7 linked regions of the Homo sapiens genome follow. The protein of the gene in region 1 purifies or fractionates together with the protein of each later gene. This does not show direct contact. Each region holds a gene or a part of one and is shown on either strand. Other genes may lie near its edges.

Region 1 (3,500 bases):
ACTTGGGAGGCTGAGGCAGGAGAATGGCGTGAACCTGGGAGGCAGAGCTTGCAGTGAGCTGAGATCGTGCCACTGCACTTCAACCTGGGCAATAGAGCAAGACTCCAACTCAAAAAAAAAAAAAAAAAGATAAAATTGGGCCAGGTATGGTGGCTTACTCCTGTAATCCCAGCACTTTGAAAGGCTGAGGCAGGTGGACCACTTGAGGCCAGAAGTTGAAGACCAGTCTGGGCAACATAGCAAGACCCTATCTCAATCAGTCAATCAACCTAAATAAATAGTAAATCTGGTGGCATGCCAAGCACAGGACCTGGGTCTATAATCAAAATTCCTGTCTTGATGGGCACAGTGGCTCACACCTGTAATCCCAGCACTTTGGTAGGCCACAGTGGGTGGATCACCTGAGATCAGGAGTTCGAAACCTGCCTAGCCAAGTATGGTGAAACCCGTCTTTACTAAAAATACAAAAATTAGCCAGGCATGGTGGCAGGCGCCTGTAATCCCAGCTACTCGGGAGGGTGAGGCAGGAGAATCGCTTGAACCTGGGAGGCGGAGGTTGCAGTGAGCCGAGATCGCGCCACTGCGCTCCAGCCTGGGTGACAGAGCAAGACTCCGTCTGAAAAAAAAAACAAAAGAATTCCTGTCTTCTCTCCGAAACAAAGCAGCATCAGTGCCCCCGCAGGTGGGAGGGAGCGCTTGCAGGAGGGAGCAGTGGGTCCGCCACGACGGTCTGGGGAGCAGGTGGGGAGGGGGCAGAGGGTGCAGCGTGTGGTGGGAGGGAGGAAGCCACACTGCTATCTTCAGGTGCTTCCCGCAGCTCCATTTGCAAAGAGCGGATGGGTTTGGGGAAGGAAGGGGTCCCCACCCTGTGCCAATACAGCGTATCAGAGGTATGTTCTCTGGGCTGTCTACAGGTTGGCTTGGGGTCCTGGGGAGGGGCAGGCCAAGCGGGCAGTACTAGGATCGGGTCCCAGCATGACCCGGCTTCACCTTCCCAGAACAAGAATGTGGTGGTGGCTGACTTCGGGCTGGCGCGTCTCATGGTGGACGAGAAGACTCAGCCTGAGGGCCTGCGGAGCCTCAAGAAGCCAGACCGCAAGAAGCGCTACACCGTGGTGGGCAACCCCTACTGGATGGCACCTGAGATGATCAACGGTGAGTGGTTCAGCCCTGCCCATCATGGCCCTCACGGGAAGCCATGGGGGAGCCCAGGAGAGCTGTAACCTCCCAAGCCCCTGGCCCCTCCCAGCCTCCTTGGCTCTTCAGTTACCCTGTGGGTCCTGTTGCTCCTATAACACACTTAGTGGCAGCCAGGCACGGTGGCTCACGCCTGTAATCCCAGCACTTTGGGAGGCTGAGGTGAGTGGATCACCTGAGGTCAGTAGTTGGAGACCAGCCTAGCCAACATGGTGAAACCCCCATTCTTTACTAAAAATACAAAAATTAGCTGGGCATGGTGGTGGGTGTAATCCCAGTACTGTAGTACTGTAATCCCAGCTACTAGGGAAGCTGAGGCAGGAGAATCGCTTGAACCTGGGAGGCAGAGGTTGCAGTGAGCCGAGATCGCGCCATTGCACTCCAGCCTGGGTGACGAGCGAAACTCCATCTCAAAAAATAAATAAATAGAAGACACTTAGTGGCTTAAATAAATGATCATACAGTTCTGGAGTCTGAAGTCCAGCGTCAGCCTCACCGGGCTGAAATCAAGACGCCGGTAGGGTGAGCTCCTTCTGCAGGCTCCGGGGCACCTGTTTCCTGACCTTTTCTGGCTCGTGGAGGCTTCCTCATTCCTCCTGTTGCTGCCCCCTCCTCTGTCTTCAGGGCTGGCTGCAAAGCATCTTCTCTTCTCTGATCTCTGCATCCATCCCCGCATCTCTTTCCCTGGCTCTAACCTTCCTCCTTTTTTTTTTCTTTTTTAAAGAGGGTCTCGCTCTGTTACTCAGGCTGGAGTGCAGTGGTGCCACCATAGCTCACTGCAGCCTCAACCTTCTGGGCTCAAACTGTCATCCCACCCCAGCCTCCTGAATAGCTGGGACCACAGGCATGCAACACCACACCCAGCTAATTTTTTTATTTTTTATTTTTTATTTTTTTTTGAGACAGAGTCTCGCTGTGTCTCCCAGGCTAGAGTGCAGTGGCGTGATCTCAGCTCACTGCAAGCTCCGCCTCCTGGGTTCACGCCATTCTCCTGCCTCAGCCTCCCGAGTAGCTGGGACTACAGGCGCCCGCCAACACGCCTGGCTAATTTTTTGTATTTTTAGTAGAAACGGGGTTTCACCGTGTTAGCCAAGATGGTGTCGATCTCCTGACCTCGTGATCCGCCCGTCTCGGCCTCCCAAAGTGCTGGGATTACAGGCGTGAGCCACCGCGCCTGGCCAATTTTTTAAATTTTTAATAGAGACGGGGGTATCACTATGTTGCCCAGGCTGGTCTCAAACTCCTGGCTTCAGGCGATCCTCCTGCCTTGACCTTTCAAAGTGCTGGGATTCCAGGCATGAGCCACCATGGCCCTCCATCCTTCTGATAGGGACCCTTACGGTGACATTGGGCCCACCTGGATAATCCAAAAGCAGCCCTCCATCTCAAGACCCTCAACTTAATCCCATCTGCAGAGTCCGATGGAAGGTGGGACGTATACAAGTCCCAGGGATCAGGACGCAGTCATCTTTGGGGATCATAGTTCTGCCTCCCACAGGGTCTGCTTCCCTCAGTCCATTTCTTTGCTGTCAATGGTCCTATATATGCCCAGATTATAGGTTATAAAGTCCTTCTACAAGCAGGTGACACATGAACACAGGTTCAGGGCAGGCAGACCCCAGCCATCACCTCATCATAGTTAACCTAGTTAAATTAGCCTGGCATGTGGCGTGGTGCCTAATGCCTGTGGTCCCAGCTACTCAGGAAGCCAAAGCGGGAGATTTACTTGAGCCAAGGAGATCAAGGCTGCAGTGAGCTATGATCATACCACTGCCTTCTAGCCTGGGCAACGGAGTGAGACCCTGTCTCAAGAAAACAAAAAATAGGCCAGGCACAGTGGCTCACACCTGTAATTCCAGCACTTTGGGAGGCTGAAGCAGGCGGATTGCTTGAGGCCAGGAGTTCGAGACCAGCCTGGCCAACATGGTGAAACGCTGTCTCTACTGAAAATACAAAAATTACCCGGGTGTGGTGGCACAGCTACTAGGGAGGCTGAGGCAGGAGAATCACTTGAACCCAGGAGCAGAGGTTACATTGGGCCAAGATTGCACCACTGCACTCCAGCCTGGGCAACAGAGGAAGACTGTGTCTCAAAAAGAAAAAAAAAAAAACCTTCCTGTAATCCCAGCACTTTGGGAGGCTGAGGTGGGCGGATCACGAGGTCAAGAGATTGAGACCATCCTGGTCAACATGATGAAACCCCATCTCTACTAAAAATACAAAAAAATTAGCTGGGCGTGGTTGCACGCGTCTGTAGTCCCAGCTACCCGGGAGGCTGAGGCAGGAGAATGATGTGAACCCAG
Region 2 (3,075 bases), on another chromosome or scaffold:
GAAGGAGCGGAGCCTCGACATCCTGAAGGTCAGGATCAGGGCCGGGGGTAGGGTCCAGGCCATCGCCTGCCCTTGGGCCGCATCAGCGCAGGGCCGCGCAGTGGTCAGAGTGGGTCTTCCTCCCCCTGCCATCCCGTCCCCTTATGCTAGTCCATCCCTCTGCTGCTGTAGATCTTCCCCCACGTTTTCCCTCCCCAAAGCAGGATTTAGCTGGCTGGGGAGGCCCTGAGCATGAGACCATCGCCCCACTAGTGGGGTCTTCTGGTCTGGGCTGCTGCAATCATGGGAGAGAGCTAGGGTGTGTCCTCCTTTCCCAGCTCGTTCAGACACTTAATGATGGGTGGTTTTCTGGAGGCAGAGCCTTTAGCTCAGAGTGACACCAGTGGTGGAAACGTCAAGGCTCTGACAGGTCACAGGGGAGGTTTGGGTGCAGAAGGGTCCTCACAGCACCCCTCAAGTGTCAGTTGGGGTGGTGGTGCCTAGCTGGGGTTTCCCCAGGGTGGACACGCATACGTACACCTTCCATCTTGCTCTTTCCCTAGGGGAAGGTCATGGCCTCCATGTTCTATGAAGTGAGCACACGGACCAGCAGCTCCTTTGCAGCAGCCATGGCCCGGCTGGGAGGTGCTGTGCTCAGCTTCTCGGAAGCCACATCGTCCGTCCAGAAGGGCGAATCCCTGGCTGACTCCGTGCAGACCATGAGCTGCTATGCCGACGTCGTCGTGCTCCGGCACCCCCAGCCTGGAGCAGTGGAGGTGAGGCCAGCCTGGGTACTGAGATGGGGTTAAGAAGGCTGGACCCAGGGGCATGAGAACCCTTCTGCCCACGTTTTCTGTGTTTTGGGCCAGATGAGTGAGGGGACCCCAGAAGAGGGGGACTGGCAGTTGGGGGGCCTCTGAGCTGCAAAAGACAGGATTTTCCCCTTTTTTCCAGCTGGCCGCCAAGCACTGCCGGAGGCCAGTGATCAATGCTGGGGATGGGGTCGGAGAGCACCCCACCCAGGCCCTGCTGGACATCTTCACCATCCGTGAGGAGCTGGGAACTGTCAATGGCATGACGGTGAGGGTGGTGGCAGGGTTTGGATCCCTGCCAGGGGACGATCTAGAGAGGGAGGCAGGAAGTGGTTACCCCGGTACAGGACAGCTGCATCAAGGAGGCCTTCATTCTGCTCCAGAGGCTTTTAAAAGCTTGGAAATGATGTCGGGGGGCACTCAGTCTGGGATCCCTGTGGTGACTGGATTCCTCTCCTAGATCACGATGGTGGGTGACCTGAAGCACGGACGCACAGTACATTCCCTGGCCTGCCTGCTCACCCAGTATCGTGTCAGCCTGCGCTACGTGGCACCTCCCAGCCTGCGCATGCCACCCACTGTGCGGGCCTTCGTGGCCTCCCGCGGCACCAAGCAGGTGAGACCCTCACAGCCCTGCCTGGAAGCCATGGAGATGTGGGTTGGGCAGTCAGAGCCCAGCGCTGCATCCACCATGGCTCTCCTCACCCTCCAGGAGGAATTCGAGAGCATTGAGGAGGCGCTGCCTGACACTGATGTGCTCTACATGACTCGAATCCAGAAGGAACGATTTGGCTCTACCCAGGAGTACGAAGCTGTGAGTGCTGGGCTTGAGGAAGAAGCCAGGGCTGCTGCCGTAGGGCATCAGATATGAGGACAGAAAGGCTGGGCTGAGGGCTGGGTCAGAGCTGTTAAACTTCACATCTGTCAATTGCCATAGCTGCATGTGGGTGTGGAGGGGACCCCAGTGGAGCCCAGACTTGTGTCCTCTGTAGCCACTCCTACCCCAAGGCACTAATGGGGACCCCATCTGCTTTGCAGTGCTTTGGTCAGTTCATCCTCACTCCCCACATCATGACCCGGGCCAAGAAGAAGATGGTGGTGATGCACCCGATGCCCCGTGTCAACGAGATAAGGTGGTGCAGCATCAGAGTCAGAGACTGCCTCGGGGCTGGTGGACGGGAGGAGACTTAGTCCTGGACAAGCCATCCATGGGCTGCACGATAACACTTCCTTTTTTTTTTTTTTTTTTTTTGCAGCGTGGAAGTGGACTCGGATCCCCGCGCAGCCTACTTCCGCCAGGCTGAGAACGGCATGTACATCCGCATGGCTCTGTTAGCCACCGTGCTGGGCCGTTTCTAGGGCCTGGCTTCCTCAGCCTCTTCTCTTTAGGCCCAGCTGCTGGGCAAGGAATTCCAGTGCCTCCTACGGGGGCAGCACACTTAGATATTCCTGGACATCCAGATAGCTCACATGTGCTGACCACACTTCAGGCTCTGGACTGGAGCTCTCTGGCATGGGGGTGGGGCCTCAGATGCTGGGGCCCAGTCTGCCCCATCTTCATTCCTGCACCTTAAACCTGTACAGTCATTTTTCTACTGACTTAATAAACAGCCGAGCTGTCCCTTGATGCTGAGTGTAGTAGAACAGAGCTTTCTTTTAGAAAATTGAGCAGATTCCCAAATTATAAGAGCAGCCTCACCAGGCAGGGCTCTGGCTAGGGCTGCGTGCCCACACTCGGCATTTTCACACTCGTGACTCTTTGGGACTCGGCAGGAGCGTGTTAACTCTGTGCTCTCTGAGTCCTGTGTCGTGCTGATGCCAGCGCTTACCTGGGGGCTCTGGCTGGTGTCCAGCCCTCCTTCCTCAATTCAGTTGACTCAAAGACCTGACAGAGAGTTCTGCCCTCTTCCTGACACTGGGAGAACACTCATCAGGGTAAAAGGAAGGCTGAGCACTGCGGCCTGTCTGAGGCCAGGCCTGGACTCTTCCTCACTCTTTCTGGTTAGTCCTCCTCCAGTGGCTAAGGCTGCCATTGCATTCTCAAAACCACCCTGGAGTTCTTCAGCCACTGTCACTATTAGGAGCCCCTCCTATTTCCCATCCCTGGGAGCCTCTGCCTGACATTGGACAGAGGGGCAGATGCCATGGAGGGCTGAGGAGCACTTTGGCTTGGAGACCCCAGGGCAGCAGCCTAAGGGCAGTAGCTTATGTGTCTGTGGGTGAGGGCTTCTGAGGAGCAGCTGTGCCCTCCAGTGAACTTGAGTAGCATTGGAGAAATCTCATT
Region 3 (3,500 bases), on another chromosome or scaffold:
GAAGCCTGGACAGGACCGCCCGATCCGCCACCTCTCCCCCGAGCTCTTCTCCTGGTGTCCGATGCTGGGGTGGGGCCGGGCCTCTGGCCTGGCCCAAGTTAGACTTGATTCTCATGGCCTCATATCCTGCTTTTCTGAGGACTTACACATCTCAAATTCTTTTTAAAAATTTGGGAGTGTTCCCACTTTGCAAGCATCCCGAGTGCGTCCTGGGTGTGACTCTTCTGTGATCTGGCACTTGGCACAGGAAGTAAAAGCGGTAGACATTTTTATAGGGTACAGGTGATCAACCAGCGGGGCTGCAAAATCTCTGGAACCAGCTGCCCACTCTGCACCCAAGGGCCACACCCACCGCTGTCTGGGCAGAAGTGAGAATTCAGGGGAGCATGGAAATCAGAACAGACCCATCTCTGAATGGCCTCGGGCTATGCGGCTCATGAGGGGCACGGAACCTACACCAGTGAAACATCAGGGAATGGAGGGAGGTGGGAACCTTTGCCCACCTTTGCAGCAAGAGCCGTTTCATCTCAATCTCTTCATCAGCCTGGGCACAGAGGGCTGCAGTGGGACGGCCCTGGGTTCTCTGCAGGTTGGCACCGAAGCCAACCCATGGGCTCTGGTGGCGAGTGCTGCGTGACTTGGCTTCAACACTACCCAACACTCTGGAATTCATCAGTTGGGGGTGGAGGTTTCCATTGTAGAAAACAAACCCACCAGGTTTGCCCAGGTGTTAACTATTTACGGTAGAAACAGGCCAGCCAGGCAGTCTCAGGCTGTCTCTGCCATCTGGGGTTCCAGACAGTGAAATGGAGGCAGCAGAGACAGGTGGAGGCTCCCAGAGAGGCAGAATTGACAGGGGAGGGCACCCAGGAAGCCAGAATCACCGGTGGAGGCATCCAGGAAGCCAGAATTGACAGGTGAAGGTGCCCAGGGCCATCTGAAGCACACATGCAGCCTCCAAGTCTCACTCGCCCAGAGTGGACCCAGAAGAGTCACTGGATGGAGCCCCGGGGAGTCTGGGCTTGGGGTCAGGGTCTCCAGGACTCTGCTCCATCATGGGCCTTCTAGTAAGAAGAGTCAGTTCTTCGGACTGGAGGTCTTCCCAGAAAACAAAACATTTCTTTCAGCCTGATGCAGTGGCTCATGCCTGTAATCCCAGCACTTTGGGAGGCTAAGGTGGCAGGATCCCTTGAGCCCAGGACTTCAAGACCAGCCTGAGCAACACAGGGAGACCCTGTCTCTACAGATAGTTTTTAAAATTAGCTGTGGGTGTAGTGGCAGGCACCTGTGGCCCAAGCTACTCGGGAGGCTGAAGTAGGAGGATCGCTTGAGCCCAGGAGGTCGAGGCTGCAGTGAGCCGTGATCGTCCACTGCACTCCAGCCTGGGCAACAGAGCAAGAAACTGTGCCCCCCTACCCCCAAAAAAAGTTTCTTCCTTCCTAACCTGGGATTTATCTTTTTGGAAGATTCCAAAGTCCCAGCAATGGCGTCCAGACACAAGGTTGTGTGATGGTGGGCCGGGGATGCGGGGTGGGGTGAAGACTTGGCCAGAGGGAGGAACATACCCCGACCCTCCGTCCTCACTGCCTCCAGTCTGCCTGCCCTGCAGTGGGGTTGTTAGAATCTGGGTCAGGGGTTCACACATGGCCTGGGCCCACTGCCACCCTCTCCAGATGTATCTCCCCAGCTGGCCAGTGGGCTCTCGTCCCTGCTGTTCCTCCCCACCCAGTGCAAAGGGACAAGGAGCCGGGCCCACGGGGCATGCTGTAGAGATAAGACCTGGGTACACTGAGGAGGGGTAAGGGGCTGGGCCTCGTCAAGAAGCCCTCCTGCCCAACCTGTCGGAATGCCTGGAGCCGGAGCCCACTGCAAGGCAGCTGGTGTCCCCCGCAGAGGCCTCCAGGTGGAGCAGGTCTTTGCTCTGCTCCTGGGTTCCCCCGGGGAGAGGAAGACTGGCCCACCTGCAGGAAGGGAGAGGCTGGGATGCCGATTACAGGCTGGGATCCCTGGCTCTGCCACTCCCCAGCTGCTGACGGGAGGTTGCTGTGCCTCTCCAGGGCTGTTTCTTCATCTGCAAAATGGGGAGGGTGTGGTGGCTCACTGGGCAGGGAGGACCCCGTGAGTTTCGAACAGTCTGTGTGGCTCACACACAGTGTTGAGGAAAACCAGCCCATCCTTATTATCATTCCCAGTCCAAATGCCCTTTCCTCCTCGACCTGCTCCCAGGCCACCCTCCCGGACAGCCGCTCTGGGGGAAGATGAGGACGGGAGGAAAGTGAGAGCAGGACTCAGCACGGGGAAGAGGGAGCAGGACGGGGACTTTGGCAGGCAGTGGGGAGAGCTTATGGGCAGAGTCCAAGCGCCTTTCCTGCAGCCTCTGGCCACCTGGAGCTCGGATGGTGGGGCTGTGCTGAGTCTGACTCCAGAAACCCTCATCCCAGCTGTGCTCAGGGGGGTAGATAACAAGTTCCACTTTCCCTCTCCAGTTCTCTTCTGGGAGGTGGGTACCCCAGGCTTCGGGGGATGACGCCCAGGGGTGAGGGTTGCTCAGGGGCAGGCTGAGGAGGATCACAATTGGGAAAGAATCCTAGCAGACCCCCAGGCAGAAGAGTCAGGAAGGAGTAGACCCTGGTGTTTTGAACTCAGCACTTGTCCGGGCAGTGTGGGAAAGGGGGGCCCGGCGCGGGGAGGCGCCCTGGGAATGTTCCCAAGGGCTCCACCGGTGTCGCTGGGGTTCCCAGGCATACGTTTTGGTGGGAAAAGGGTCGGGGAAGGCAGTGACTAGGTCTCTGTGCCTTTGTTTTAGGCTGGAAGCTAAATCCAGTGGTCGGCGCAGTCTACGGGCCTGAATTCTATGCAGGTAAAAGCTGGGGCGGGGCGGGGATGGGATGAGACCAGCTACTTGGCCCCGTGGGGCTCCGGGGGCTCTGGGGGCGGGGCATGAGGGGCGGGGCCAGGTGGGCCGTCCCCGCCCTCCCGTCGCCGTGTTGACTGAGTAGCGCTCCGGGGGCGGGGCTTGGGGAGGGGTTGGGGGCTAGGTGCGCGGGGGGGCTAGGTGTACGGGGAGGGGGTGCCAGGTGGGTCCCCTTGTGCCTCTCACACGTGTCTCGGGCCCCGTTTCCTGCAGTGACGGGGTTCCCCTACCCCACCACCGGCACAGCCGTTGCCTACCGGGGCGCACATCTTCGGGGCCGGGGCCGGGCCGTGTATAATACATTTCGGGCTGCGCCACCCCCACCCCCCATCCCGACTTACGGAGCGTGAGTACCTGGGCCGGGGGAGGCGTGGAGGAGGGGGTAGGACGGCGGGGAGGAGGGAAATGGGGAGGCCCTGCGCAGTGCGAGGGGCTAGGCAGCCTTTCCAGACCTGGGGGGGGGGAGGATCGTGGGAGCCCCAGAACTCAGCCCTGCAGCTGCCTCCATTATCTTCACCCCTATCCCCACCACGGCGGGCATCGCGGAGGTCACTGGCATTTAGGGGGACATTCAGAGCCCCAGAAC
Region 4 (3,500 bases), on another chromosome or scaffold:
GCGTGGTGGCGGGCGCCTGTAATCCCAGTTACTCGGAAGGCTGACGCAGGAGAATGTCGTGAACCTGGGAGGCAGAGCTTGCAGTCAGCCGAGATTGCGTCACTTCACTCCAGCCTGGGCAACAGAGCCAGACTCTGTCTCAAAAAAAAAAAAAAATTAAAATGGTGTTCCATGAGAAAAACAACTACATTTAGCTTTCAAAAGTAATTACAGGTGGTTTGCCCCTTGATATCCTTTGTATTTCAGTAAGCAGAAGTTTTTGAGTATTTCCCAATACTGAATTAAAAAGAATTGTGCTGTAGTGTTGAGAAATAATACAACTAATAATTTTTGCTGCTTCATTAAGGACCCTTTTAAGTGAAAGTGGAATTTTTTATATTGTAAATGGGTGACAGTGAAGAATTCAGTGAGTGTTAGTTCAGCACCATTTGGGGTTGTTGCTTTGATTCATGCTGAGTTCCCAGCATTTTTGCACACCATTGATTTTGCACATCAGCACAGAGGTCAGAACAGTAAAGAAAAAGGGCAAAGTGTCTTAGTTTTATTGTGAAAATGGTTTTGATTTCATTGAACCCCTGGAAGAAGTGTTGGGGACTTTTAGGGGTCTTTGGGTCACACTTTGAGAACCACTAATCTAGAACAATATTTCACATTGGTTCATAGAGCCCTAAGCTGCTTCATAGGGCAGAGCTGGTGGGGTTCTACTGTACCTACTCCCTCTTCACTTCAGCCAGAGCAGCTTCTGCTTATGTCTGTTTTATATGTCGGGTTTCATGGCTAAAAAATATTTGAAAATCATTAGTCAAGGGGAAAAGAATTGAGCACCTGAATTAGGGCTGGTCTGTTCGTGAAGGGAACAGTTCATCCTCAGTAAATGTTACAGTCACTCATCACTTCACATCTTTAATTTTACTTCGTTTGACACAGAGCTTACTAGTATTTGCACACTCAACCTTCTTGATAGGTAAATGGGGCTGTGTGCCGTGGCTCACGCCTGTAATGCTAGCACTTTGGGAGGCTGAGGTGGGCGGATCACGAGGTCGGAAGATCGAGACCATCCTGGCCAACTTGGTGAAACCCCATGTCTACTAAAATACAAAAAATTAACCCGGTATAGTGGTGGGTGCCTGTAGTCCCATCTTCTCGAGAGGCTGAGGCAGGGAAATCGCTTGAACCCAGGAGGCAGAGGTTGCAGTGAGCTGAGATCATGCCACTGCACTGCACTCCAGCCTGGCAACAGAGCAAGACTGTCTCAAAAAAATAAATAAATAAAAAATAAGTAAATGGGCCTGGCACAGGGGCTCACCTATAATCCCTGCACTTTAGGAGGCCAAAGCAGGAAGATGGCTTGAGTCCAGGAGTTAGAGACCAGCCTGGGCAACATAGTGGCACATGCCTGTGGTCTCAGCTTTTTGGGAGGCTAAAGTGGGAGGATCAGTTGAACCCAGGAGGTCCAGGCTGCAGTGAGCCATGATCATGCCACTGCATTCCAGCCTGGGCAACAGAGTGAGACCTTGTCTCAAAACAAAAACCAAAAAAAAAAAAAAAAAAAAGAAATAGGTAAATGAATTTGTAAATTAAAAAGATGGATAGTTGGGAATAAAGACAGAGATGTGAGATAGATGGAAGAGGTTGAATGATCATAGTAATCTCAATATATTGTGTTTGTGCAGGGATGGGATTTGTTTTTGTTTGCAGTGGTGCTTTATGCTTGTGCTGAGTGATCAGTGGATGACACTTAAGCATTGAGAAATAAGAAATTATGGCATTCTAGCTAGCCATTGAACCAAAGTTTAGAGTGAGGGGACATTTATTATGCTTTTTAAATTATAAATACCTGTAAAATACCTGTTGAAAAATAAACAAAATGCTGCTTTTGAGGAGCTCTAGTTTGAGGCAGCTTTGTCCTCCTACCAGTCTTTTGGTGTAGGCTGTACAATCCCTATTGTTCAGATGTAGAAATTGAGGTCTGAGAGATTGAATATTATGACTTACAGTAGCAAGTGGCAGAGGAATTTTTTATTTTTTTAACTTTTTATTTTGAATTAACTTTAGATTTTAAGAGTCAATGATGGTAACTGACAGGTTTTTTTTTGGTTGTTTTTTTGAGATGGAGTTTCACTGTTGTTATCCAGGCTGGAGTGCAGTGGCACGATCTCGGCTCACTGCAATCTCTGCCTCCTGGGTTCAAGCGATTCTCCTGCCTCAGCCTCCCGAATAGCTGGGATGACAGGCATGCGTCACGACAACTGGCTAATTATGTATTTTTTAGTAGAGACGGGGTTTCTCCTTGCTTCTCAGGCTGGTCTTGAACTCCCGACCTCAGGTGATCCGCCCACTTTGGGCCTCCCAAAATGGTGCGATTACATGCGTGAGCCACCGTGCCCAGCCTTATACAGTGATTCTTAATAGTTAGGTATATATCCTTTCACTTTTAGAAATTTATTTATTTATTTATTTTTGGAGACAGAATTTCACTCTTGTCACCCAGGCTGTAGTGCAGTGGCGCAATCTGGGCTCACAGCAACCTCCACCTCCCAGGTTCAAGCAGTTCTCCTGCCTCAGCCTCCTGAGTAGCTGGGATTACAGGCATGTAGGCTAATTTTTGTATTAGTAGAGACAGGGGGTTTCACCATGTAGGCCAGGCTGGGCTCGAACTCCTGAGCTCAGGTGATCCACCAGCCTTGGCCTCCCAAAGTGTTGGGATTGCAGGTGTGAGCCACCGCGCCTAGCCGAGTGACAGTTTTAAATACAGATGTCTCACACCAAAGCTAATATACTCTTCACTCTAAAATGATTAGGGTTATGTTAAGGGGATGAAAAAAATGCTGCTCAGTGCTATTAGGAAGGAGCTTATGTAAGATGCTATGGACTATTTAAAATTAATTTACACCCAGTGAGCAAAGTCAAGACATTTTTTTTACCCAGAGCAGCAGACAGGTAAAACACTCAGGTGGCAGGTATAATAACAAATATATTGCATAACTAAAAGCAGCTGAGAGACACTAGTTTACGTAATCGGGGTTGGAAAGGAAGAGGGGAAGTAAAGTGTTTTATTTTTTTTGAGATGGACTCTGGCTCCGTCGCCAGGCTGGAGTGCAGTGGCCCGATCTCGGCTCACTGCAACCTCCGCCTCCTGGATTCAAGTGATTCTCCTGCCTCAGCCTCCCAAGTAGCTGGGACTAGAGGCACACACCACCATGCCCAGCTAATTTTTGTATTTTCAGTAGAGACGGGGTTTCACCATGTTGGCCAGGATGGTCTCGATCTCTTGACCTCGTGATCTGCCCGCCTCTGCTTCCCGGAGTGCTGGGATTACAGACATGAGCCACCGTGCCCGGCCTTTAAAGTGTTTTTATACTAATAAAGAGTTTAAGGGTGTGCGGCAGTCTTGTGAAAGCAGGTGAGGCTTGAGCAACAATTTTTAGGAAGAAAAGGAGATACGATTTTTAGAGAGGGTATGATGTTCTTTTTTTTTGTTTGAGACAGCGTCTTGCTCT
Region 5 (3,500 bases), on another chromosome or scaffold:
TATGGCTCAGAATAGCTAGCTATTTTCTTTTTTCCCTTGGAATGTGAGGTGTTTTTTTTTTTTGGTTTTTTTTTGAGACAAGAGTTTTGCCCTTTTTGCCTAGGCTGGAGTGGAGTGGCACAATCTTGGCTTACTGCAACCTCCACCTCCCGGGTTCAAGTGATTCTTCTGCCTCAGCCTTCTGAATAGCTGGGATTACAGGTGCATGCCACCATGCCCAGCTAATTTTTGTATTTTTAGTAGAGATGGGGTTTCACCATGTTGGCCAGGATGGTCTCCAACTCCTGTCCTTAGGTGATCTGCCTGCCCCAGCCTCCCAAAGTGCTGGGATTACAGGCATGAGCCAACGCACCCAGTTGGAATGTGAGTTCTTTGTGAAGAGCTTTCTTTTACCTGTTTTAGACTTATTAGCGTTGTGTTCTCTTTTTACATTAGCCGTTGATCCAGAAATTATAGCTCGAGGTACTGTTGGCTTTTCCGGAGCAGAGTTGGAGAATCTTGTGAACCAGGCTGCATTAAAAGCAGCTGTTGATGGAAAAGAAATGGTTACCATGAAGGAGCTGGAGTTTTCCAAAGACAAAATTCTAATGGGTAGGTTTCCTTTCTTTTTTTTCTGTCTTTTACTTTTCATTGTGTTAGATAATTCATTTAGGGGCAAATACTCTATTCAAACAGCTAAAGCCATGGCTATGTTGAATCTAATCTTACTCTAAAACTTCAGTGTCTGGGTTTTCAAGATTTGTAATAAATGATTTTACAAAATTCCCAACTTAACATCAAACAAATGCCATTAAACTGTAACATTTTCTTGACAATAATCTTGTCAGTGATACAGAACTGATTTTATAGTGTACCACATTTATTAGTTTTGTCTCTTTCTTAGAAAACCTTTTTTTCTGACTGGAAAGCTTTAAAAAGTGATGGGAACATGAAAATATATACTTGACAACACCACAATTTGGCATCTTACGAAACAAATATATTCTAGTTGCTTATGTAATTATATAGTTAAACTGGTAGTGGGGAGATGAGGCACGTATACATTTCCTCTTGTCAGACATTGCTGCGAAAAAGGATACTTTATTCTGTGCTTAATTTCGATTTTAAATCTTGGATTGGCTTAAAATCACATTAATTATGATATTCTTGTTAAACTGGAAGTTTATTTTATAGAAATAGAAATAAGTTTTCCCTTTTGAATTAAGATGATAGTTTTGACAGTTTTGGTTTTCAGTTAAATTGTTAAAGTTTGTATGTGTTAGGAATGAATTCTGCCCATTTTAAAAAACTTTGTAGACTGGGCGTGGTGGCTCACACCTGTAATCCCAGCACTTTGGGAGGCCAAGGCAGGAGGACTGCTTGAGCCCAGAATCGTTGGAGTTCAAGATCAGCTGGGCAACATAGCAAGACTCCATCTCTACCAAAAATTTTAAAAATTAGTTGGGTGGGGTGGCATGCGACTGTGGTCCCATCTACTTGGGAGTCCTAGGTGGGAGGATTACTTAAGTCCAAGAAGTTAAAGCTACAGTGAGCCATGATCATGCCACTGTATTCCAGCCTGGGTTACAGACCCTGTTTAAAAAGAAACAAAATTACTAAAAATTACTAAAGCTAGGTGCAGTGGCACATGCCTGTAATCCCAGCACTTTGGGAAGCTGAGGTGGGTGGATTGCTTGAGGCTAAGAGTTCAAGGTTGGAGTGAGCTATAATAAGAATGACTTTAAGGAGAATGAGTTTTTTGTTTTATAATATTAATCCCATATCAGATACATTCACCTCTCAGTATCCACTGAAGGGGTGGGGATTGGTTCCAGGACCCATGTGGATACCAAAATTCAGGGATGCTCAAGTGTCTTTTATAAAATGGTGTACTATTTGCATATACCTACATAATTCTCCTGTATACTTCAAATCATCTCTAGATTACTAATACAATATAAATGCTCTGTAAATAGTTGTTATAATGTATTTTTTTCATTTGTATTATTTTTTATTGTTCCTCTTCCCCATAGTTTTAATCCTTATTTGGTTGAATCTATGGATGCAGAATCTGCTGATAGGAAGGGTGGAGTGTATTTGATTTGCAGACAAGAATGTGTTTTGTTGATTTAAATATACCTTTCTAATGGAGTATTTACTCAATTAAATTTATCTTAGGGCCTGAAAGAAGAAGTGTGGAAATTGATAACAAAAACAAAACCATCACAGCATATCATGAATCTGGTCATGCCATTATTGCATATTACACAAAAGATGCAATGCCTATCAACAAAGCTACAATCATGCCACGGGGGCCAACACTTGGACATGTAAGTTTTTTGTAGTGTCTCGCCCTGTCACCCAGGCTGGAGTGCAATGGCGCGATCTCAGCTCACTGCAACCTCTGCCTTCCGGATTCAAACGATTCTTTCACCTCAGCCTCCCAAGTAACTGGGATTACAGGTGCCCACCACCACGCCCAGCTAATTTTTGTAATTTTAGTAGAGATGGGGTTTCACCATGTTGGCCAGGCTGCTCTAGAACTCCTGACCTCAGGTGATCCACCTGCCTCAGTCTCCCAAAGTGCTGGGATTACAGGCGTGAGCCACCATGCCCTGCCTAATTCTTAAATATCTAATTACTCCGCTGCCCCAAAAGGGAAAACATTATGTTTTGTAGTAACTGATTCAGTAGTTTCTCTAAGATTTTTATCATTTAGTACAAGTTTATCAGATCTTTCAACATTGTAGACATTTAAAAAATTTCTATGCACCTGGGGAGAAAACAGTCCTATTGCAGCATTATCCACCTATTGTTGTTGCTTTATAAAGGATGTTTTTATTCTCTAATTGCTGGTTTTTCATCAGTCCCCTGATGACCAGCTTTCAGCAACATGGTATAAAGTACTTTAGTGAGAGCTAAATGATAATTCTGGTTTGTATTTTTTTATTTTGCCCAGTCTTACGGTGCTGAAATTCTGGTTTTTAATGTAACTATATCAGAACTGTATCTGAATTTTTTTTAAATTTTTATTTTATTTTATATTGATGGAGTCTCGCGATGTTGCCCAGTCTACTCTCAAACTCCTGGGCTCAAGTGATCCTCACACCTCAGCCTCCCAAAGTGCTGAGACTACAGGTATGAGCCACTGCACCCAGCCTGTATCTGAATTTCTTTCATTACATTTTATTTTATTTTAATTTAATTTGGTTTTATTTTATTTATTGTATTTTATTTTTGAGATGGAGTTTCACTCTTGTTGCCCAGGCTAGAGTGCAATGGCATGATCTCAGCTCACTGCAACCTCTGTCTCCTGGCTTCAAGTGAGTCTTCTGCCTTAGCCTCCCAAGTAGTTGGGATTATAGCCATGCACCACCATGCCTGCCTAATTTTGTATTTTTAGTAGAGACAGGATTTCTCCATGTTGGTCAGGCTGGTCTCGAACTCCCAACCTCAGGTGATCCACCCACCTCGCCTGCCAAAGTGCTGGGATTCAGGCGTGAGCCACCGCACCCAGCCTC
Region 6 (3,500 bases), on another chromosome or scaffold:
AAATGCAGAAGGAGCACCCTTTGATCACAAAAGCAGCTGCTGCCACCTTTGTTTTGTACCTGGGTTCCTGGTGAAAGTGTCAGCTGTAAAGAAGCTGCAGGCGATGGGAGGGAAATAACCTGGCAGCCTAAGGGTTAAAGGCCTCTTGGGCAAGCCTTCAAAGCCTGCCACTACCTGGCCCCAGCCTTTTTTTCTCACTGCTCCCTGGACGTTTAATTCCAGGCAGCCACCTTTATTCGTAGTTCCCTGAGTGCTTTCCTTCCCAATTCCCTTCACTAGCTCTGTGTAATCGAAGTTAGACCTGAGAGTCAAGGCCCAGCTTGAGTTCCCTACCCCTCCCCAAGGGTTTCCTGATTAACCCAGCCAGACAGCATCTCATACGTCAGAATCTTTGTAGTACGCACTTATTTCTCAACCACTCATGTATTTAGTGGACTAGTTTAGTAGCTGTTGCTGTATACATCTCCACATCCTACCCTCCCAGTTGTACCACCAGAATCTCCTGAAATTGGCATCAGTAGGTACACAATAAAAACTGCTTGAGTGAATGCAATGAGAAATGTTGAAGGAAGAATCTGTGGAATTTGAGTTCTAACTAGTTATTATAGGGCTTGAAGGAGATAGAGGACTCTAAGAAGACCCCAAGGTTTTGAACCAGAGGATGAGGAAAAGAAATACTTTGTCCAAAATTAGGACGAGAGCTGATTTTCAGAGAATGTGATTTTTGAACACGTTGAATTTGCAGGTGATGGATATAATTTTTTTCCTTTTAGTTATTTGGATTTTCCTTCATTTCAGTCTTTATTGTATTGTGTTTTTCCATGTTTGTGATTCCCTAAGAATACCTCTATTCCTTAAGTCAAAGTATTAAAGAACAGTAAAATACAGTTTAGTGAAATATCTGAGGCATTATCAGCAGAAAGGGCATTTTGAGAGCTTGATTGGAACTTAGTCCTGATTGGGATTTTTCTCTCTCCTGCTCCTTCTCATCCTCCCACCCTACCCGCTTCCCCTCACTTCCCTTTGGCTGCTAGTCCAGATTCTCAAGAGGCTTCAACTCCATCAGACAGAGATCTGTTTGTGCATTCTGTGTCAATGATCACATGAATACTCCTTTGACTTCTCAGTGCCCCCACACAAACTGGTGCCTTGCTAAGGAAAGTGTGGGTAGTTAGGAGGTGCTAGTAGGTCCATTTTTAAGAGCAAATCTTGAACGTGTTGGAAAATCTTAGACCCTCCTATAAAGGGAAATGAACTTACACTGATTTTTTCCTTGATACCAGCGAAAATACCGTTAGGAAAATTAACTCTCTGTTAGCTTTCTTCATCCCAGGAGTCCAAGTGCATAATTAATAGTATTTCCAGGTATTACGGGTGTGTTGTTGTTGTTGTTTGTTTGTTTGCTTTTGAGATGGAGTTTTGCTCTGTTGCCCAGGCTGGAGTGCAATGGTGCGATCTCTGCTGACCGTAACCTCTGCCCCCCAGGTTCAAGTGATTCTCCTGCCTCAGCCTCCCGAGTAGCTGGGATCACAAGCATGCATCACCACACACGGCTAATTTTGTATTTTTAGTAGAGATGGGGTTTCTCCATGTTGGTCAGGCAAGTCTCTAAACTTCCGACCTCAGGTGATCTGCCTGCCTTGGCCTCCCAAAGTGCTGAGATTACAGGTGTGAACCACCATGCCAACCCTGGTTATTTTTAATTTTGGATAATTTGCACCATTAAAAGAATTAATCACTTAAAGTTAGTGGCCCATGGTCCATAAACCCAGGAATTTTACTTCTTTCTCATGCCAACCCAATCTCTGTTTATATCACTGTGGTAACACAGAACTTGTTACACTGTGATTGTTTTATTTATTTATTTTAGAAGCAGGGTCCACTCTGTTGCCCCAGCTGGAGTGCAGTGTGACCTCGAAGAACTTCTGGGCTCAAGTGATCCTCTGGCCTCAGCCTCCAGAGTAGCTGAGACTACAGGCCCGTGCCACCACACCTGGCTAATTTTTTTGTAGCGAACAGGGCCTTGTTTTGTTGCCCAAGGTGGTCTCCAACTCCTGACCTCTAGCGATCCTCTAGCCTCAGCCTACTGTGATTGTTTTAAATGTCTTTCTGGGCTAGGCATGGTGGTTCATGCCTGTAATCCCAGCACTTTGGGAGGCTGAGGTGGGAGGATTGCTTGGGCCCAAGAATTCGAAACCAGCCTGTACAGTATAGTGAGACCTTGTCTCTACAAAAATCTTTAAAAATCAGCCCAGCATGGTGGTGTGCCTGTAGTCGCAGCCACTTGGGAGGCTGAGGTAGGAGAATCACTTGAACCCTGGAGGGAGAGGTTACATTGAGCCAAAGATGGCACCACTGCACTCCAGCCTGGGTGACAGAGCAAGACTCTGTCTCAAAAATGAATAAATGAATGAATGTTTGTCTTTCTGCTCCAACAGACTATGGACTTCCCCAAAACTCCCTGCCCATATTTCTATCTTAAGCCCTAACATGGTACCCTATTTATAATATTCAGTAAATGTTGAATGAAAACGAACATATGGCTTTTTTTTTTTTTTTTTTGGGAGATGAAGTCTTGCTCTGTTGCCCAGGCTGGTGTGCAGTGGCGCGATCTTGGCTCACTGCAACTTTAGCCTCCTGGGTTCAAATGACTCTTCTGCCTCAGCCTCCGAAACAGCTAGGATTACAGGCCCATGCCATCATGGACAGCTAATTTTTCTATTTTTTTTTTTTTTTAGTAGAAACAGGGTTTCATCATGTTGGCCAGGCTGGTCTCAAACTCCTAACCTCAAGTAATCCACCTGCCTCGGCCTCCCAAAGTGCAAGGATTACAGGTGTGAGCCACCATGCCTGGCCACCATCTTCCTTACTTTTTTTTACGGTCTTGTAATAGCTTTATTATCTCATTTTTCTCTAATTTTTTCTTTCTTTTCTTTTCTTTTTTTTTTGAGACAGAGTCTCACTCAGTCGCCCAGGTGGGAGTGCAGTGGCTCCGTCTCCACTCACTGCAAGCTCTGCCTCCTGGGATCACACCATTCTCCTACCTCAGCCTCCCAAGTAGCTGGGACTACAGGCGCCCGCCACCACGCCCAGCTAATATTTTTGTATTTTTTTTTAGTAGAGACAGGGTTTCACTGTGTTAACCAGGATGGTCTCAATCTCCTGACCTCGTGATCCGCCCGCCTCGGCCTCCCAAAGTGCTGGGATTACAGGCGTGAACCACCGCGCCCGGCCTCATTTTTCTCTAATTTTTTCTACTTTTATACTTTTTTTTTTTTTTTTTTTTAGATTGAGTTTCACTCTGTAGCCCAGGCTGGAGTGCAATGGCATGATCTCAGCTCATTGCAAACTCTGCCTCCCAGGTTCAGGTGATTCTCCTGCCTCAGCCTTCGGAGTAGCTAGGATTACAGGCATGCGCTACCACACCCGGCTAGTTTTTGTGTTAGTAGAGACAGGTTTTTGCCACGTTGGCCAGACTGGTCTCAAACTCCTGACCTGAG
Region 7 (3,500 bases), on another chromosome or scaffold:
TCCCAAAGTGCTGGGATTACAGATGTGAGCCACTGTGCCTTGCCAGCCCTGGAACTTTGAAAACTATGCACTGGCCAAAAAAAAAAAAAAAAAAAAAAAAAGCCGGGCGCAGTGGCTCACGCCTGTAATCCCAGCACTCTGGGAGGCCAAGGCGGGCGGATCACGAGGTCAGGAGTTTGAGACCAGCCTGGCCAATATGGTGACACCCTGTTTCTCCCAAAAATACAAAAATTAGCCAGGCATGGTGGCTCGCACCTGTAGTCCCAGCTACTTGGGAGGCTGAGGCAGAAGAATTGCTTGAACCCAGGATGTGGCGGTTGCAGTGAGCCGAGATGGTGCCACTGCACTCCAGCCTGGGTGACAGAGGGAGACTCCGTGTCAAAAAAAAAAGAAAAAAACATGCGCTGCCTGGGTGTGGTGGCTTACGCCTATAATCCCAGCACTTTGGGAGGCCAAGGTGTGTGAATCATTTGAGGTCAGGAGTTCGAGACCAGCCTGACCAATATGGTGAAATCCTGTCTCTACTAAAAATACAAAATTAGCCAGGCGTGGTGGTGCACGCCTGTAATCCCAGCCACTTGGGAGGCTGAGGTGGGAGAATCGCTTGAACCCAGGAGGCAGAGTTTGCAGTGAGCCGAGATCGCACCACTGCACTCCAGCCTGGGCAACAAGTGTGAAGCTCCGTCTCAAAAAAAAAAAAGAAAGAAAGAAAACTGTGCAGCTCAGTTCCTCCCTGGTCTCTGTTTCCATTTACTCCACGTCGAATCTTTTTGCCACCTGCAGGGTCTGCCTTCAGAGAATGTGTTATAAATGAATGCAAGTGCCTGCGGTGAGGAGGAGGCCAGTGCGATTCTTCCAGACTCGAGTTAGAAAGGAAAAGTAAATATTTATTGAGGTCTTAATGTGGTCTAGCTGGATTTGTGACATTTCTTATCTTTAATCCTTGGCTCCACCTGCTGAAGTAGTGGATATTACCTCTATTTTCCCAATCAGTAAACCATGGCTCACTTTTCTAACTTTCGTTTCACATTGATGAGCTGTAATTCTTCTGTGAAGAACTTTCCATCTTCCAGGACTAGTTTGTTACCTTGAAGTATGGTACGAGAAAGGCAGTTTAATGCTTAACTGTTCCTTTTGATGACTAATTTTCAGGATAGAGAGTTGGAGCTTACTCCAAATGTTGACCAGAGTTGAGGGTTTGTTTGGGGGTAGGGAAGGGGTTCTCTTTTTTTCTCCAGCATCATTGTGAACTTTTATGTGTTTGTCAGTTGCATGAATTATTCGTTTTCCTAGTCAAATTGTCCTGTCTTGGCCAGGCGCAGTGGCTCCAGCCTGTAATCCCAGCACTTTGGGAGGCCGAGGTGGGCAGATCACTTGAGGTCAGGAGTTCAAGACCAGCCTGGCCAACGTGGTGAAACCCCATCTCTACAGAAAATACAAAAATTTGCCAGGCATGGTGGTGCACGCCTGTAATCCCAGCTACTCAGGAGGCTGAGGCAGGAGAATTGCTTGAACCTGGAAGGCGGAGGTTGCGGTGAGCTGAGATCGTACCACTGCACTCCAGCCTGGGCGACAGAGCGAGACTCCATCTTAAAAAAAAAGAAGAAAAAAAAATTGTCCTGTCTTAGCCATTGGAGCCCTTCTGATTGGCTCCTTGCCCTTCTAGCACTGTGGGTCAGCGTTTCTCCCAGCGGGATGCCCGCCTTCACCTTGTGTACTTCCCATCCCAGAGCTGCAGTCAGCCCCTCCTTCAGGACTCCAGGTGCCGTTAGTGGGGAGCGGTATTTAGAGACACAATCCAGGTGCCATGGGTGCTTTTTGCTGCTGGGTGGTCATTGTTGTTAGGCCTTTACTGTGAAAAATTAGGAAGTACACACTTGGGGCAGCAGCAAAGAGTTCCTAGCAATTAGCGTCACTTTCAGTTGAACAGTCCAGATCTTTGCTGTTTTGAATTTCATATTTAGATCTCGTCGCTGGTATGCTTGGTTCCGCTCCTCGTTTCTTAGTTGCTTATTCTACCCGTTATTCACTGATGTTATTCTACTGTACACTCACTCATATAATTGCTTCAGAATGAGCATTCTCACAGCACAATTGCAACTGGAGTGCTGAGAAAAGGTTAGTATTTCTTTGCAGGCTGGGTGTGGTGGCTCACACCTGGAATCCCAGCACTTTAGGAGACCGAGGTAGGTGGATCCCTTGAGGCCAGGAGTTCGAAACCAGCCTGGCCAACGTGGGGAAACCCCATCTCTAGAAAAAATATAAAAATTATCTGGTGTGGTGGCGTACGCCTATAATCCTAGCTACTAGGTAGGTGGAGGTTGCAGTGAGCTGAGATCACGACACTGCACTCCAACCTGGGTGACAAAGTGAGACTGTCTCATAAAAATAAAAAAAAAGAAGAAGTCTGGTCATGATTCCTGTACTCTCCCTGTCCCCTCCCTGACCATGGATAACATTTCTTAGGCTCCTAGTTCACCTGTTCCATATTTTTGCAAATATAAGCAAATTTGCATGTATAATCACCCTCTGTCCTTATTACACACAGAGTAGCTTTTTATTTTATTATTTTATTTTATTTTATTTTATTTTTTGAGACGGAGTTTTTCTGTCTCCTAGGCTAGAATGCAATGGCATGTTCTCGGCTCACTGCAGCCTCCGCCTCCCGGATTCAAGCAGTTCTCCTGCCTCAGCCTCCCGAGTAGCTGGGACTACAGACACCCACCACCGCGCCCAGCTAATTTTTTGTGTGTTTTTACTAGAGGTGGGGTTTCTCCATTTTGGCCAGGCTAGTCTCAAACTCCTGACATTAGGTGATCCACCCACTTCGGCCTCCCAAAGTGCTGGAATTATAGGCGTAAGCGACCACGCCCAGCCCAAAAAGTAGCTTTTTAAATTTACAGGTCAGGCACAGTGCCTCACACATGTAATCCCAGTATTTTGGAAGGCAGAGGCAGGCAGACTGCTTTAGCCTCAGGAGTTTGAGACCAGCCTGGTCAACATGGTGAAACCCCGTCTCTACGTAAAACAAAACCAAAAATTAACCCGGCATGGTGGCACATGCCTGTAGTCCGAGCTACTTGGGAGCCTGAGGTGGGAAGATCACTTGAGCCCGGGAAGGTCAAAGCTGCAGTGAGCCATGTTTGAGCCACTGCACCCCAGCCAGCATGACAGAGCAAGACCCTATCTCAAAAATAAATATAAACATACAGTCATCCTTCCATATCTGTGGGTTCCACACTAGTGGATTCAGCCAACTGCGAATTGAAAATATATGGTAGAAAAACAAAATACTATAATAAAGAATAAGACATTTTAAAATAATACAGTATAACAATTATTTGTATAGCAGTTTTATTGTATTAGGGATTACAAGTAATCTAGCGATGATTTCAAGTATATGGGAGGATGTGCATGGATTACATGCAAATACTAAACCATTTTATAAAAGGGACTTGAATATCTGTAGATTTTGGCATCCGCAGGGGTCCCTAGAACCA

The links.
Region 2: the proteins of LIMK1 (region 1) and CAD purify together in Homo sapiens (affinity purification with mass spectrometry; one large-scale study listed by BioGRID and IntAct). This does not show direct contact.
Region 3: the proteins of LIMK1 (region 1) and RBFOX3 purify together in Homo sapiens (affinity purification with mass spectrometry; one large-scale study listed by BioGRID and IntAct). This does not show direct contact.
Region 4: the proteins of LIMK1 (region 1) and NUP98 purify together in Homo sapiens (affinity purification with mass spectrometry; one large-scale study listed by BioGRID and IntAct). This does not show direct contact.
Region 5: the proteins of LIMK1 (region 1) and YME1L1 purify together in Homo sapiens (affinity purification with mass spectrometry; one large-scale study listed by BioGRID and IntAct). This does not show direct contact.
Region 6: the proteins of LIMK1 (region 1) and MMS19 purify together in Homo sapiens (affinity purification with mass spectrometry; one large-scale study listed by BioGRID and IntAct). This does not show direct contact.
Region 7: the proteins of LIMK1 (region 1) and SLC35E1 purify together in Homo sapiens (affinity purification with mass spectrometry; one large-scale study listed by BioGRID and IntAct). This does not show direct contact.

What each region holds. Positions count from the first base shown.
Region 1 is NC_000007.14:74,114,804-74,118,303, forward strand, and holds part of LIMK1 (LIM domain kinase 1), read left to right. Parts: intron 1-998; coding exon 999-1,155; intron 1,156-3,500. UniProt on the Homo sapiens protein: Serine/threonine-protein kinase that plays an essential role in the regulation of actin filament dynamics. Acts downstream of several Rho family GTPase signal transduction pathways.
Region 2 is NC_000002.12:27,241,369-27,244,443, forward strand, and holds the end of CAD (multifunctional protein CAD), read left to right. Parts: coding exon 1-28; intron 29-542; coding exon 543-755; intron 756-933; coding exon 934-1,059; intron 1,060-1,251; coding exon 1,252-1,407; intron 1,408-1,503; coding exon 1,504-1,605; intron 1,606-1,829; coding exon 1,830-1,924; intron 1,925-2,047; coding exon 2,048-2,150; 3' UTR 2,151-2,575; downstream 2,576-3,075. UniProt on the Homo sapiens protein: Multifunctional protein that encodes the first 3 enzymatic activities of the de novo pyrimidine pathway: carbamoylphosphate synthetase (CPSase; EC 6.3.5.5), aspartate transcarbamylase (ATCase; EC 2.1.3.2) and dihydroorotase (DHOase; EC 3.5.2.3).
Region 3 is NC_000017.11:79,097,052-79,100,551, reverse strand, and holds part of RBFOX3 (RNA binding protein fox-1 homolog 3), read left to right. Parts: intron 1-2,785; coding exon of another isoform or gene 2,786-2,806; coding exon 2,807-2,860; intron 2,861-3,127; coding exon 3,128-3,260; intron 3,261-3,500. UniProt on the Homo sapiens protein: Pre-mRNA alternative splicing regulator. Regulates alternative splicing of RBFOX2 to enhance the production of mRNA species that are targeted for nonsense-mediated decay (NMD).
Region 4 is NC_000011.10:3,787,555-3,791,054, reverse strand, and holds part of NUP98 (nuclear pore complex protein Nup98-Nup96 isoform 1 precursor), read left to right. Parts: intron 1-3,500. UniProt on the Homo sapiens protein: Plays a role in the nuclear pore complex (NPC) assembly and/or maintenance. NUP98 and NUP96 are involved in the bidirectional transport across the NPC. May anchor NUP153 and TPR to the NPC.
Region 5 is NC_000010.11:27,116,385-27,119,884, reverse strand, and holds part of YME1L1 (ATP-dependent zinc metalloprotease YME1L1), read left to right. Parts: intron 1-435; coding exon 436-591; intron 592-2,157; coding exon 2,158-2,309; intron 2,310-3,500. UniProt on the Homo sapiens protein: ATP-dependent metalloprotease that catalyzes the degradation of folded and unfolded proteins with a suitable degron sequence in the mitochondrial intermembrane region.
Region 6 is NC_000010.11:97,491,923-97,495,422, reverse strand, and holds part of MMS19 (MMS19 nucleotide excision repair protein homolog), read left to right. Parts: intron 1-3,500. UniProt on the Homo sapiens protein: Key component of the cytosolic iron-sulfur protein assembly (CIA) complex, a multiprotein complex that mediates the incorporation of iron-sulfur cluster into apoproteins specifically involved in DNA metabolism and genomic integrity.
Region 7 is NC_000019.10:16,562,416-16,565,915, reverse strand, and holds part of SLC35E1 (solute carrier family 35 member E1), read left to right. Parts: intron 1-3,500. UniProt on the Homo sapiens protein: Putative transporter.